Linked DNA regions of Homo sapiens. The main gene of each other region encodes a partner of the protein of the gene in region 2 in a complex. Each region holds a gene or a part of one and is shown on either strand. Other genes may lie near its edges.

Evidence for each region. The genes of interacting proteins can lie anywhere in the genome.
Region 1: the proteins of NSUN4 (region 2) and MTERF4 are in contact, whole or in part, in a crystal structure (PDB 4FP9), measured with the Homo sapiens proteins. Residues at the interface, in NP_950245.2 of Homo sapiens: Pro61, Ser62, Arg64, Val65, Leu68, Ser69, Glu70, Arg136, Gly137, Asp138, Ile139, Arg141, Asn367, Leu368, Met369; in NP_872307.2 of Homo sapiens: Tyr267, Glu269, Arg270, Leu271, Gly272, Arg273, Glu311, Glu312, Val315, Phe316, Lys318, Leu319, Arg322, Glu323, Glu326.

What each region holds. Positions count from the first base shown.
Region 1 is NC_000002.12:241,099,269-241,107,136, reverse strand, and holds the start of MTERF4 (transcription termination factor 4, mitochondrial), read left to right. Parts: upstream 1-4,849; 5' UTR 4,850-4,863; coding exon 4,864-4,884; intron 4,885-7,242; coding exon 7,243-7,741; intron 7,742-7,868. Other genes in the region: PASK (PAS domain-containing serine/threonine-protein kinase), read left to right, coding at 414-571. UniProt on the Homo sapiens protein: Regulator of mitochondrial ribosome biogenesis and translation. Binds to mitochondrial ribosomal RNAs 16S, 12S and 7S and targets NSUN4 RNA methyltransferase to the mitochondrial large ribosomal subunit (39S).
Region 2 is NC_000001.11:46,336,270-46,343,806, reverse strand, and holds the start of NSUN4 (5-cytosine rRNA methyltransferase NSUN4), read right to left. Parts: upstream 3,001-7,537; 5' UTR 2,981-3,000; coding exon 2,888-2,980; intron 2,630-2,887; exon of another isoform or gene 1-2,629. UniProt on the Homo sapiens protein: Mitochondrial RNA cytosine C(5)-methyltransferase that methylates cytosine to 5-methylcytosine (m5C) in various RNAs, such as rRNAs, mRNAs and some long non-coding RNAs (lncRNAs).

The DNA of each region.
Region 1 (7,868 bases), on a different chromosome or scaffold from region 2:
TTGGACCTTGGAGGGTGGGCAGGTGTCATGGGAGCTCCTGGCAGAAGGGGTCGGAACCCTCAAAGATGGTTTGAGGAATGCAGCTGGTGATGGTCTGACTGGGCCGAAGGGGAGGATGAGGCCACAGATGCTGAGAGTGATTCTCTAGCAGCCGGCGGGGCCGAGGGCTCTTCAGACAAGGCTCTGGCCACAGAGCCAAAACCACTGCTCAGAGCATTTGGACCAAGCTGCGGTTGATGGCCCTGGGCTTAGATCCCCACCTTGGCAGGATCTGTACTTCCGGGACATTGCCAGTTGGATTTCTGAGGGCCTCACCTTAGGCTTTTGTTCTAGGACTTCTTCAAGTGAGAAGCAAAGTATTTTAGAACCTTAAGTTGTTAGCACGTGATACAGTTACCTTCTTGTTTCTTCAGAAAGTGGAGTTCTGTCCGCTGCGAGCCTGGAGATGGGGAACAGGAGCCTGAGTGATGTGGCCCAGGCTCAGGAGCTTTGTGGGGGCCCCGTTCCAGGCGAGGCTCCTAATGGCCAAGGCTGTTTGCATCCCGGGGATCCCCGTCTGCTGACCAGCTAAACACCAATTTCTTCCTGCTTTTCTCCACTTGGTTTGGAAAATCACACAGTTTTCAGGCTCCATCTGTTTGGAGAAAATACATTCTGAAGCATCCCCAATTCACCTTCTAAAAACTCATGTGCAGGTTTGATAAACACCAGAACAGAAGACAGTGATGCTGTATTATTTTAGATTTATTACATAGATTTGGAATTCACTTTTTTCATGACCTAGAAAAAAACATTCCAGTGTTCAACTGTTTTATATTATTAAAGGGCTTTTAATTTGTGAACTTCTGAAGGCATGAGTGTTTTCTCTTTCTACTTTTGTATATGTGCATGTTTTGTTTCCTCTGACTTGGTATATGCTCATCTGAGTGACGGATATGTGAAATTTGTAGAACTGGTTAGTCAAATGGCCAGACTATTTCATTAATTTATTTCCTCAAATGCTTTTCAAATTAAAGCACCTTTGTTAGTAAACAGTTATCCTGACTTGGATGTTGTGAACTGTTCCCGTGTGCTAAGTGTGAGAAATACCTGGTTTCCTCATTTTTCCATGTGTGCACCCCACTTGCCACAGTTGGAGAGAAGTCTAGCCTTGGCCATTCTGGGGTTCCTTTTACAAGCAGGCCCTGCCAGGGGTGGGCCTAGGGCTCTGAAGCTTGCTCCATCTGGTAAGACGGGGGAGGGTGGCTTCCTCAGGGACCTCCCTTCTGTCTGTAGCAAGACTCTGCTGTCAAACACGTGGCTGGCTCACTGCCAGCAGTCCCCAAATATCCCATGGCCAGCCAGCTCCCACCTCTGTCCACATGAGGGGCTTCCTGGCCCAGCCCCCACCTCTGGTCTGTGTGAGGGGCTCCAGCCCTGTATTCCTCCGAGCTGCTCAGGTTCCAGGGTGTTTGTCAGATACTCAACTGGCTGCTTCCCTCCCTTAGACTCCAGTCCATCCCCCTCAGACAGACTTGGCTAGGTCAAGTACTTAGGATTGTTTTATTTCATGTCTGTGTTAGAGAGGAGGGAATAGCTAGAGGTGAGAGCAGAACCTTTCATTTTTTTCCCCTGCTGAGACAGTAGGAAAAAAACCAAAAACCTAAACCCCTACCCTTTTCCCACATGTCATCACTTGCAGACGGTTTTTCCACATTCTGAGACTCCTGCCCAGAACCCTCTGGAAGCTGCCTGGGAGCCAGGCTGCCTCCTGCGTGGTTCTGAGCTATTTCTAGTGGTTATTTAGGAGGCACTCAACTGTTTTGGGATGATCAGAGTTAATTTTAGTCCCATCTAGTAGGATATGGGCTATTGCCATCCCTTTCTTCAGAAAGTGCTGCCTGAGCCTCGCTGCCACCACAAGTGACTGATGGAGTTGGTGGGGGAGGACCCTCCTCTATCAGGGACATTCAAGGTACAAGGGTTTTACAGGTGTGTATTAAAGTCAGTGATGTTCACTCTTCAGAATTCAAAGAGTTTTCTGATGTTTTAAGAACCCCTACCTTGTAGTGTTTATGGTGCTTATAACACAGAGGATGTTATAGAATGGTGTTTGTTTGTTTGTTTATTTATTTAGAGACAGAGTCTTATACTGTCGCCTGGGCTGGAGTGCAATGGTGCGATCTCAGCTCACTGCAACCTCCGCCTCCCAGGTTCAAGCAATTCTGCCTCAGCCTCCCAAGTAGCTGGGATTACAGGTGCCCACCACCACGCCTGGCTAAATTTTTGTATTTTTAGTAGAGACGAGGTTTCACTATGTTGGCCAGGCTGGTCTCAAACTCCTGACCTCATGATCCGCCCGCCTCGGCCTCCCAAAATGTTGGGATTACAGGCATGAGCCACTGCGTTCGGCCACAATGGTGTTTGCAGACAGGTGTTTAATGGGTTGAGAATGCATAGTCTGAGCTTTCTAAGAACTGTTACTTCTTTATAAGAAAAAATAATTAAAGCTCATCTGACTTCATGGCAGTGGAAGGTCTGGTATTTTGCAAACGTTCTTTGCAGAAAGAACCCAGAGAGGAAAGTTCTGAGGCTGAGGCTGACAATTTTTCCACTCCATTTTTTTTTTTTTTTTTAAGATGGAATCTTGCTCTGTCACCCAGGCTGGAGTGCAATGGTGCAATCTCGGCTCACTGCAACCTCCGTTCCCTGGGTTCAAGCAATTCTCCTGCCTCAGCCTCCCGAGTAGCTGGGATTACAAGTGTGCGTTATCACGTTACCTGGCTAATTTTTGTATTTTTAGTAGAGGCAGGGTTTCACTATATTGGCCAGGCTGGTCTCGAACTCCTGACCTCAGGTGATCCACCCATCTCAGCCTCTCAAAGTGCTGGGATTACAAGCATGAGCCACCGTGCCCAACCCACTGCATATTTTTAAAGTATGGTTCGAGAGAGCAAAGTTTTCACACAAGACTGAAGGTGATGTCAAATTTTTTTTTTTTTTTTTTGAGAAGTACTTTCGCTTTTGTTGCCCAGGCTGCAGTACAATGGCGTGATCTTGGCTCACTGCAACCTCCGCCTCCCAGGTTCAAGTGATTCTCCTGCCTCAGCCTCCTGAGTAGCTGACACTACAGGTGCCCACCACCATGCCTGGCTAATTTTTGTATTTTTAGTAGAGATGGGGTTTCACCATGTTTTCCAGGCTGGTCTCAAACCCCTGACCTCAGGTGATCTGCCCACCTCGGCCTCCCAAAGTGCTGGGATTACAGGCGTGAGCCACCACACCCGGGCTCATGTCAATTTTTCATAGTAATCCCCATGTCCCAGCTGTCATTTTATTTCTAGAGCTAGACAAACTGTTCAGGTTCCTTGATTCTTTCCAGGGAGTTGGGGTGGCTCATGGGATTTTCTTAGGCTTTTGGTGTAGCATTAACACAATTTATTGTGAGATGTTGACAGTTGAGTATTTTGAGAAGAAAATTACATTATAAAAAACAACAAAGGCAACCAATTTTTTTTTTCCTTTTGTTTTTTGAGACAAGGTCTTGCTCTGTTACGCAGGCTGGAGTGCAGTGGTGCAATCATGGCTCACTGCAGCCTCAACCTCCTGGACTCAAGTGATCCTCCCACTTCAGGCTCCTGAGTAGCTGGGACTACAGGTGCACGCCACTACTCCCGGCTAATTTTTTATTTTTTGTAGAGACAGGATTTTCCTATGTTGCTCAGGTTGGTCTTGAACTCCTGAGCCCAGGCAATCCCCCCCACCTCAGCCTCTCACAGTGCTGGGATTACAGGCGTGGGCCACTGCACTCTGCCAAAGCAACCAATTCTTTAGTTTCTACACGGATTAGAACCTTCCTTTTCTTTGACATAATCCTTTTGTCAAAAGACAGTTTTACATAAATTGTTTGGCACCCCACTCCATGCCTGGCGCAAAGCAGATATGTAAATGTGTGCCCATGCAAGAATCAAATCCTTTATGTCAGTCCAGAATGAAGTAGATAAAACAAGAAATGCTTATAAATTAAGGCTTTGGTGGCAGGATTTAGGCAGCTGAGAAAGCACACCTTTTTATTCTTCACAAGCATCACCTTGTGAAAGATGCCTACGCTCTTAGGTCGAGAGAGGAAATTTAAGAATGAATACACATTGGGCTAAAACTTTACTATATTTCATCCTAAGAGGGAACCAGACCTCGAAGTTGGGAAGGCTCTTGCTTATAAAGGGAAATGTGCCGTAATTCCTGTCATTTTACTTGGGTCTTTTAAAAACGGCAAATTCTCATCTTCCACTGGCTGAGAGTAAAAAGAAAGAAAAGCGGTAAAGACTTCTTTTTGTGCGTAGGTGGCCCCGGTGTTCACGCTGAATACAGATTTTTACACAATAAAATCTTAAATATCTCTACATGGAACGGAATCCATTTTTCCTGCCTCGGGAAGGATTTCTGCGCTCTCGGGTGAAGTTCCCGAAGCAAGGAACCAGTTCCCCTCTACCTGTACTCTTGAGAGGAATTCTCAGGTCATCTGAAACACAAGTATGGGCCAGGACGACCCATTCGTTCACGCGGCCCAGAGCTCTGCGAAACGGGACACGGCAGTGCAACGGGAACAACCGGACACCGAGGCCCCCGAAGGCTGAGGCCGCGGCAGAGGCGGCGGCACGGTGACGGGCGCGACTCCGGCCTTCCGGCTTTCTAAGGGGCGGCCCCGGGACACCTGAGCCCCGCGGGGCCGTGAACGCTCAGCACAGCTCCGGGCCGGAATCACGATCCACCACACCGCGCTGGCGCTGGGAACGGCGTCGGTGACGGACCGGGGGCCGGAAGTGAAGGACGGGGGAGGACCGCTGCTTCCGGCGCCGTAACTGCTGCCATCTTCTCCGCGCTATGGCTGCGTTCGGCCGTCAGGTAAGCTCGAGCTGGGCGCGCGGGCTTCTCCGGGTCGCAGGCGGGCGGGCAGCGACGCAGAGGAACCGCGGCCGCCGAGTGTTTCACGGCCAGGTCGTGGAGCCCTCCCGGAGGTCCGTGCACGCTGACCTGGTTTTGGCATCCTGGACCCGTGGCTCTGCTCAATTATTGTGGGATATAGAGTTGACATTTTTTTTTTTTGAGACAAAGTCTCGCTCTGTCTCCAGGCTGGAGTGCAATGGCGCGATCTCGGCTCACTGCAACCTCCGCCTCCCGGGTTCAAGCAATTCTACTGCTTCAGCCTCCCAAGTAGCTGGGATTACAGGCGCCCGCCACCATGCCTGGCTAATTTTTGTATTTTTAGTAGAGACGGGGTTTCACCGTGTTGGCCAGTCTGGTCTGTAACTTCTGGCCTCAGGTGATCCACCCGCCTCGAACTCCCAAAGTGCTGGGATTACAGGCGTGAGCCACCGCGCCCGGCCTGAGTTGACTGTTGAACAAGAGTTTGAACTTCACAAGGAAGATAACATGTACTTTTCATTAAGAGGAAGCGGAATCAGCATAGAGGTCTTTAGGCTTGAGCCCAGTTCCACGGGCCGCGCCCGCTGACCCCAGCGACTGCCAGGTGTTCCTGGCGGAGGGAGCATCTGGACAGGGGAGGCTGGAGAGCAGCCAGAGCTTGGGCTTGGCAGGGTGGCCCCAGGGCGACAATCGATGACGCTGGAGAAGGGGTTGGGACCGATGTGAAGGTTTTAGAGCAGGGGTTCCCCAACCCCCGGTACCGTCCCTTGCCTATTAGGAACCAGGCTGCACAGCAGGAGGTGAGCGGCAAGTGAGCCAGCCAGACTGTATTTACAGCCGCTCCCTTCGCTGGCATTACCGCCTGAGCTCCGCCTCCTGTCAGACCAGCCGCCTTAGATTCTCACTGGAGCGCGAACCCTATTGTGAACTGCGCCTTTGAGGGGTCCAGGTTGCGCTCCTTATGAGAATCTGATGCCCGATGATCTGTCACTGTTTCCCATCAACCCCAGATGGCACCTCCTGGTTGTAGGAAAACAAGCTCAGGGCTCCCAGTGATTCTACATTATGGTGAGTTGTATAATTATTTCATCTTATATTACAACGTGAAAATAACAGAAATAAAGTGCACAACAAATGTAATATGCTTGAATCATCCTGAAACCCCTCACCAGTCTGTGGAAAAATTGTCTTCCATGAAGCCAGTCCCTGGTGCCAAAAACGTTGAAGACTGCTGGCTTAGAGTGCCTGGATGATTTGTGCATAGTTTGTTAAGCACCAGCCTGAACCACTGAAGACTTTTGAGGTCAACTGGAATTGTGTATGCAAGTTGACTAATTACTGTGACCCTTGAACAACACAGGGGTTAGGGGCACCAGACCGCCCCCACACCAGTTGAAAATCAGTGTATAACGTTTGACTCCTCCAAAACTCAACTACTAATAGCCTACTCATGACTGGAAGCCTTACCGACAACATAAACAGTTAACACATATCTTGTATATATATATATTGCATTCTGTATTCTTAAAGTAAGCTAGAGAAAAGAAAACGTTATTCAGAAAATCATAAGGGCAAAACCCCGTCTCTACAAAAAATACAAAAATTAGCAGGGTGTAGTGTGCACCTGTAGTCCCAGCTACTCAGAAGGCTGAGGTGGGAGGATTACCTCAGCCTGGGGAAGTCAAGGCTGCAGTGAGCCATGATTGCACCACTGCACTCCAGCCTGGGCAACAGAGTGAGACCCCCGTCTCAAAAAACAAAAAGAAAATCCTAAGAGAAAATGTATTTACTATTCATTAAGAGGAAGTAGATCCTCATAAGGTCTTTAGGCTGAAGAGGAGGTGAAGGAGAGTTTGGTCTTGGTGTCTCAAGGGTGGCAGAGGCGGAAGAAAATCCACATATAAGTGGATCCAAGCAGTTCAAACCCTTGTTGTTCAAGGGCCAACTCTGTATCCCACAAGATTCTTCTCGTGGAATGAATTTAAGAACATGAATCTGGAAAGTAGTCTGAGGTCCAGACTTTTCTGGCACACATGACCAGGTGGCCTAGAAATAGTTTTTCCCTCTTCCTCCATGTCCCTGCTCCCATCCTTAAAGCTGCAAAAGCTAACAATATTGTACCTGCTTGACTCCCATCTCTGTGGCCTTGAAATACCCTGTTCTTTGTGAGCTTCCTTCTCTGTAGGCTTAAGTTCAGATAGGATTTTGCAGATTGCTTATAAAAATTGTATGTTTGTGTGGAACCAAGGCAGTAAGTACTCTGGCTCAGAAGTCTTATGGTGTCCATTACACTGGAATAGTGAGGAATTAATTGTCTTTTGGTCCTGTGTCTTACAGGTCCTTGATTGGCACCGCCTGATCCCCCTCACCTGGGCCTGTATGGCTAGGCAGACTCCTCATCTTGGAGAACAGAGAAGGACGACAGCTTCTTTGTTGCGCAAACTGACTACAGCCTCCAATGGAGGGGTCATTGAGGAGTTATCTTGTGTTAGATCCAATAACTATGTGCAGGAACCAGAGTGCAGGAGGAATCTTGTTCAGTGCCTCCTTGAGAAGCAGGGGACTCCTGTGGTACAAGGGTCCTTGGAGCTAGAGAGGGTCATGAGTTCCCTCCTGGACATGGGTTTCAGCAATGCCCATATTAATGAATTGCTCAGTGTACGGCGAGGTGCCAGTCTTCAACAGTTGCTGGACATCATTTCAGAATTTATTCTCTTGGGTCTGAATCCAGAGCCTGTGTGTGTGGTCTTGAAGAAAAGTCCCCAGTTATTGAAACTGCCTATTATGCAAATGAGGAAGCGCTCCAGTTACCTGCAAAAGCTTGGGCTTGGAGAAGGTACAAGAAGTTGCAGATTTTGGCTGGGTGCGGTGGCTCATGCCTGTAATCCCAGATCTTTGGGAGGCCGAGGCAGGCAGATCACTTGAGGTCAGGGGTTCAAGATCAGCCTGGCCAACATGGTGAA
Region 2 (7,537 bases):
GCCATCATAGACTCTTGCTCTTGCCCTGACCTCTGCTAATTTGGGGACTCTCACCCTGGTGCTCATTTATGCTAAGTTGGGGACTCTCACTCTGGCCCTGACTTGTGTTTTGTTGAGGATTACTGCTCCGGCCCCAGCTTCTGCTAGGATAGGGACTGCTTTTCTGACTTGGACTTCTGCTCAGATGATGCCTCTTGCTCCAGCTCTGACTTCTGCCATCATGGGGACTCTTGCTTTGGCTCCGGCTTTGGCTTTGGTGGGAACTCCTGCTCTCGCTGTCACTACTCTGGCATTTGCTAATAATAGTCGAACTACAGCTGGGATTGGTGCTACAGCTGGAATCCTTGGATGAAGGCAAAGGGCAGCTGTAGGGGATCTGCAGAGGCTCTTTGCAAGGGCCTTGAGAGGCCACAGGGTAGATATGGAGGCCACAGGGGACAGTATCAGGGTAGGCCCGGACTCGGGGGACAATGGGTAAACTTTGAGGATCAAAGGGTGTTCTCAAAGGGATAAAAGAATAGATGTGGGTAGAACAAGGAGGCATCACAGGCTGACAACGAGGTTGGGGTGGGCCCCTGGGAGTGCTATAGGTGTCACACAGGGGCACAATGGGAGGGGGGCCTGTCGAATGATTGAGGGAGCCAGACAGTGGGCAGGGATGGGGGGTGGAGGGAACCACAGAGCATATATGGGTATTGCAGGGGGGCCCTATGGAGGGTCCATGGCGGCTGCTCTGAGCATAACTATTGGCCGAGACAGGATCACAAGGAAGGCAGAGGGGAAAAGAAGTGGGGATAACACTTTTGAGAGCTCTAGGGACCACAGTCAGTAAGGTAGTCCCTGGGGGAAGTTCTTTGGGGCTGGAATTTGAAGGAGTTGTGATGTATGGCTGCATACAAGAAGGACCAGAGAGGCAGGAGGGAGGTGGGGGACAGGTGTGGGCCTTAGCGGGCTTGGGCTGGCCAGAAGGGGTGTGCTGGGGAGTGTTGACTAGGGAGAGACATTTGTGGGGAGTATGTGACTGTCTTAACTCTGGGGACTTAGGGGACTTCGGTTGGGGGGAAACTGGAGTGGGAAGAGGGGGTTCATTATAGCTTCTGCGGGGAAGTGACTGGGGTGGAGATATAAACTGGTTGCCCAGGGGTGAAGGGAAGGAAAGGACAGAATGAGGACCATGGGGACGAGATGGTTCCTGGGAACAGGGGGGACCAGAAGTTGTGGTGTCCGGGGTTAGGATGAGGTAAGAGTTCCCAGTTGCCTCCCAGGAGAGAAGGGACTCAATGCAAGCCTTCCTGGGAGCCTGGGACTGGGGTGAGCAAGGAGAATCAGTACTCCCGGGGCACAGGCAGATGGCATAGCAAGGACTCCCAGGGGTAGGTATGTAGGCCTCTGAGGAAAGATGGGAGTAATGATAAGAGCCCTCCTGAGGTGAGCTGGGAGAGCCAGGCATGCCTGCCTGAGAAGAGAGTGGGAAGCCACAACAATTTTTCTCAAGGGGCAGGTCAAGCTGTGGTTTGGGTTCACAAGAGTCTAGAGGCTTAAGGCTGCCATGGTAAAAGCTGCCAGTAGGTGGGGAAGATGCTGGGGAGAGAAGGGGGTCATTATAACTTCTCCCTGAGAACCAGTGAGAGGGCAGAGAGATCATCAGCCCAGTTTCCAAAACTCTGTGAGAAAGGGTTGGGGAGGCCATAGGACTAGTTTCCACCGGCCGGCGAGCAAGAGGAGGTGAAATCGTGAGGCAAGTTCCCGGGGTCCTATGTGTAGGAGGAGGCGAAATCATGGGTCCAGTTTCCAAGGGTACATGAGTGAGCTGAGGGGAGGTCACTGGGCTCGTTCCCGGGGACTGATGAGCAAGGGGAAAGGAGGTTGCCGGGCTGGTTCCAAAAGCTGAAGGCCATCCGCTAGAGTAACAGAGATTAGTGTGCTGGTCACAGTACGTGCCTTGAAGACAGGGACGCCGCATTCTGGAGGGACTCATCCAGCTGCAATAAGGTGTCCGCTGACAGAGAGGGGGTGACCCCGGAATGCTGAACTGCTCAAAATAAGGGCTGGAGAGTGGGGAACCCGAGTGGCAGGGCTAGCGGCAGTAGGTCCTTTCCAGGAGTGGGGAAGAGGACTCAAAAGACCATCTCCCTGAGTGCGAGGAAGGTTGTGGGGGTGGAAGAGATGGTGGAGGTGGCGAGGGAATCGGCTGGGGTGGGCAGGGGGGCGTGCCGGTCATAGAAGAAATTCCAGGGCTTCCAGTGAGGCAAGAAAAAGGGTCTCTGGAGAAGCAAGGAGAGTCCAGAGGATGAGAGGATTCGTTGCACCTTTTGCCAGGGTTTGGGCCGGCAGTATGGACAGGGTGGTCGCTGTAACCTTGCCCGGTCGCCAGAGGCAGCTCGAGGTTGAGGAAGGGGCTGAATCCTTTCCTGCAAGGCGGCGGAGACCCAGGAGTGCAGGCAAGGTCGCTATGGTATTTTCCGAGGGGTGAGGGCGACCGGGCTGGAAAATCAATGAGGAAAGGAGAAGTCATGTGGGGGAAGAATGGGCAAGGGAAAGGGGGAGGGGAGGGAGGGAAGTAAAAGGGGGAGTGGGGGACAGAAAGGTAGGTGGACACAGCTGGGGAACAAGAGACAGTGACATCACTAAAAGAATGAAGGCGAAGGTGATGACGCAACTTGGGCGGAGTCAGGAGACTGCAGACGTAACAAGTGGAAGACACTAACGCTCGGGACATAGAGTGCGGACAGAGGCGGTGACGGAAAAGACGAGAGAGGGAGGTGCCTAAGGACGTTCCGTGGAGTGCTTGGGAAAGACGCTAGGCGTTCTAGAGGGCCGGGAAACGGAAAGACTGGAGAAGTTTCCACCCTCACTTTTCCCTCCTGCGCCCCCAGCCGGACCTTACCCATTTCTTCTTATATCGATGTCTCCGCGGGACCGTCGCGAGGTCCACACGCTTCAGCAGCTCCCGGACACCCCTCAGTGTCAGCGCAGCCATATCGGCGTGCTCCACGGGGTAATTCCGACCGGAACCGCGACAGGAGACTCGCGTGTTCCGGGGAGGTGGTGAGCGCCACCCGGCGGGACACGAGCGAAAAAAGGGAAAGGAAATACATCTGACGCTCTCCCAGGACTCCGCGCGCCTCTACAGACTCCGCCCAGCCAGGAGTCCCCTGAAGGCTGCTGGAAAAAGAGCAACCTGGCACCCGGAATAATGACTCTGCCTGGATGCTTAGAGCAGTGCGAGGGACTCCCAAGAAGCCCCTAGCCCACTTGGGGGACCAGGGAGGATTAGGAGTTGGTGGTTGAGTACCGAAAGAGTTAGCTAGGCGAAAAGGGGCGGGAAGGGCCTCCTAGGCCGAAATTGCATGGAGGAAGATCCTTAGGTAGAGGAAAATGAGACCAGGCTTGTAGGCAGAAGCAGATTTGCAGTGAAACAAATGAAGCTTAAGTTTCGGGACCTGGCCGGGCGTGGTGGCTCACGCCTGTAATCCCAGCACTTTGGGAGGCCGAGGCGAGCAGATCACGAGGTCAGGAGATCGAGACCCTCCTGGCTAACACGGTGAAACCCCGTCTCTACCAAAAATACAAAAAATTAGCCGGGCGAGGTTGCTGGCGCCTGCAGTCCCAGCTACTCGGGAAGCTGAGGGATGGCGTGAACCCGGGAGGCGGAGCTTGCAGTGAGCCCAGATCGCGCCACTGCACTCCAGCCTGGGCGACAAAGCGAGACTCCGTCTCAAAAAAAAAAAAAAAAAAAAAAAAAGTGGAGGCGTGAATAACCCACCCCTTGTTTAGCGTACCATCAAGAAATAACCATAAAAATGGGCAAGCAGCCCTTGGAGCTGCTCTATCTATGGACTATCCATTCTTTTATTCTTGTACTTTAATAAACTTGCTCTCACTTTGCATTGCGGACTCGCCCTGAATTCTTTCTTGTGCGAGATCCATGAACCTCTCTTGGGGTCCGGATCGGGACCCCTTTCTGGTAACAATGCCTGTAATCCCAGCCAATCTCCCTGCCTTTTGATCTCCCTGCCTCACTCCTACCCACCCTGATAATTGGCTGTTGAATGATCATTTAAAAACACAGTTTCTGATCATGTCCCTCCTCTCCACTGGATCCCTACTGGTGATGTCAAATGTTGTGGGGCCTAACGCTTCCGCAATTTGAGAAGACATAGTTAAGAAAAATAATACAAAACTTGGCCGGGCGCGGTGGCTCACGCTGCCCCCAGCCGAAAGCTTTTTCTTATTTGGCATTTGAATGTGGAATTTTGGAATTTTCTTATTGGCAACAAATACTGTCAGTTATTTTCCTTGAAGTGACAGGCTCACTTTGTTCATTTTTCAAGAAAAAGGCTGGCCGGCACTGTGGCTCATTCCTGTAATCCTAGCACTTGGGAGGCCGAGGTGGGTGGATCACCTGAGGTCAGGAGTTGGAGACCAGCCAGGCCAACGTGGTGAAACCCAGTCTCTACTAAAAATACAAAAATTAGTTGGGCATGGTGGCTCATGCCTGTAATCCCAGCTACTTGGGAGGCCGAGGCAGGAGAATAACTTGAAACCAGGAGGCAGAGGTTGCAGTGAGCTGAGATCATGCCACTGCACTCCAGGCTGGGCAACAGAGTGAGACTCTGTCTCAAAAGAAAAATTCTAGTATATTAAAATATAATTGATTTTTTCTGTTGACCTTGTATCCTGAGACCTTCCTAAACTCAATTATTACTTTTGGTAACTTTTTGGAAATCTGTTCAGGTTTTCTATGCATATGGTCATGTCTTTTGTAAATAAAGACACTTTAACTTCTTTCTTTTCTATCTATATCCCTTTTTTTTTTCTTTGCTTTATTCCACTGGCTAGGACTTCCAGTACACAGTTGAATGTAAGTGGTGATGGTAGGCATCCTTGCCTTGTTCCCATTCTTAAGAAGAAAGCATTTAGTACTTCACCATTATATATGATGTTAGCTGTAGTTTTGTGTGTGCGTGTACCTGCATGTGTATAGATGTCCTTTCTTAGGTTTAGAAAGTTCCCTTCTGTTCCTAGTTTGCTGAGATTTTAAAAAATCATGATAGTTGTTGATTTTCCTTAAGTTTTTTTTTTTTTTCTGTTAAGATGATCATACAGTTTTACTCCTTTTTTTTTTTTTTCTTTTTGACGGAGTTTCGCTCTGTCACCAGGCTGGAGTGCAGTGGTGCCATCTCGGCTCACTGCAACCTCCGCCTCCTAGGTTCAAGCAATTATTCTGCCTCAGCCTCCTGAGTAGCTGTTATCACAGGCATGCACCACCACGCCTGGCTAATTTTTGTATTTTTAGTAGAGATGGGGTTTCACCGTGTTGGCCAGGCTGGTCTCGAACTCCTGATCTCAGGTGATCCGCCCACCTCCCAAAGTGCTGTGATTAGGTGTGAGCCCCTGCGCCCAGCCAGTTTTACTTCTTTATTCCATTACTATGATGCATCATGTTGACTGACTTTTCAATATGAACCAACTTTGCATTCTTGTAAAAAACACATCAATTCATGATACAAATACAGTATTTTTTTTCTTTTAGACAGAGTCTTGCTCTGTCACCCAGGCTGCAGTGCAGTGGCACAATCTTGGCTCACTGCAACCCACGCCTCCCAGGTTCAAGCGATTCTTCTGCCTCAGCCTCCTGAGTAGCTGAGACTACAGGTGCAGGCCACCACGCCCAGCTAATTTTTATATTTTTAGTAGAGTCAGGGTTTTGCCATGTTGGCCAATCTGGTCTTGAACTCCTGACCTCAGGTGATCCACCCACCTTGGCCTCCCAAAGTGCTGCGATTACAGGTACGAGCCACTGCGCCCAGCCGATGATACAGTATTCTTTTTAAATATTGTTGGGATTCTTTTTTGTGTGTGTGTGTGTGTTTTTTTTTTTTTTTGAGACGGAGCCTTGCTCTTTCACCCAGGCCGGAGTGCAGTGGCGCTATTTCTGCTCACTGCAAGCTCCGCCTCCCGGGTTCACGCCATTCTCCTGCCTCAGCCTCCCGAGTAGCTGGGACTACAGGCGCCCGCCACCGCGCCCGGCTAATTTTTTGTATTTTTAGTAGAGATGGGGTTTCACTGTGTTAGCCAGGATTGTCTCGATCTCCTGACCTCGTGATCCGCCCGCTCCGGCCTCCCAGATTGTTGGGATTCTTGGGTCTGAGTTAATGAGTCGTATTTGCCTGCAGTTTTTTCTTCTTATAAAGTCTTTGTTTGATTCTGATATCAGGGTAATGCTGGCCTCATAAAATGAATTTAGGAAATGTCCCTTCACTTCTATTTTCTTTTTTTTTTTTAATTTTTTCTTTTTTTGAGTTGGAGTTTCCTTCTTGTTGCCCAGGCTGGAGTGCAATGGCATGATCTCGGCTCACTGCAACCTCCGCCTCCCAGGTTCAAGCGATTCTCCTGCCTCAGCCTCCTGAGTAGCTAGGATTACAGGCACCCGCCACCGCACCTGGCTAATTTTTTTTTCTTTTGTATTTTTAGTAGAGACAGGGTTTCACCATGTTGGCCAGGCTGGTGATTTTTTTTTTTTTTTTTTTTTTTTTTTTTTTTTTGAGACGGAGTCTCGCTGTCGCCCAGGCTGGAGTGCAGTGGCGCAATCTCGGCTCACTGCAGGCTCCGCCCCCGGGGGTTCACGCCATTCTCCTGCCTCAGCCTCCCGAGTAGCTGGGACTACAGGCGCCCGCCACCTCGCCCGGCTAATTTTTTGTATTTTTAGTAGAGACGGGGTTTCACCGTGTTAGCCAGGATGGTCTCGATCTCCTGACCTCGTGATCCGCCCGCCTCGGCCTCCCAAAGTCAGGCTGGTGATTTTTATTGATATATAATAATTGTACATATTTTGGGAGTACATGTGATATTTTGATACATGTATATGATGTATAATGATCAATTATGAAGGGATTGGGATATCCATCACCTCAAACACAAACATTTATCTTTGTGTTGGGATCATTATAATTCTTCTAGATATTTTAAAATATACACTAAATTATTTATAATTATAATTTCCCTACTTTACTATCAAATACTAGAATTTATTCCTTCTCTCTAACCATATTTTTGTACCTATTAACCAACTTCTCAATTTCTTTTTTTTTTTTCTTTTTTTGAGGAGTCTCGCTCTGTCGCCCAGGCTGGAGTGCAGTGGTGCCATCTCGGCTCGCTGCAAGCTCCACCTCCTGGGTTCACACCATTCTCCTGCCTCAGCCTCCCAAGTAGCTGGGACTACAGGTGCCCACCACCACGCCTGGCTAATTTTTTATATTTTTTAGTAGAGACAGGGTTTCACCATGTTAGCCAGGATGGTGTTGATCTCCTGACCTCAGGTGATCCGCCTGCCTCGGCCTCCCAAAGTGCTGGGATTACAGGCATGAGCCACTGCGCCTGGCCTTTTTTTTTTTTTTTTTTTTGTGACGGAGTTTCCTTCTTGTTGCCCAGGCTGGAGTGCAATGGCACATCTTGGCTCATCACAACCTCCGCCTCCCAGGTTCAAGCAATTCTCCTGCCTCAGCCTCCCGAGCAGCTGGGATTACGGGCATGT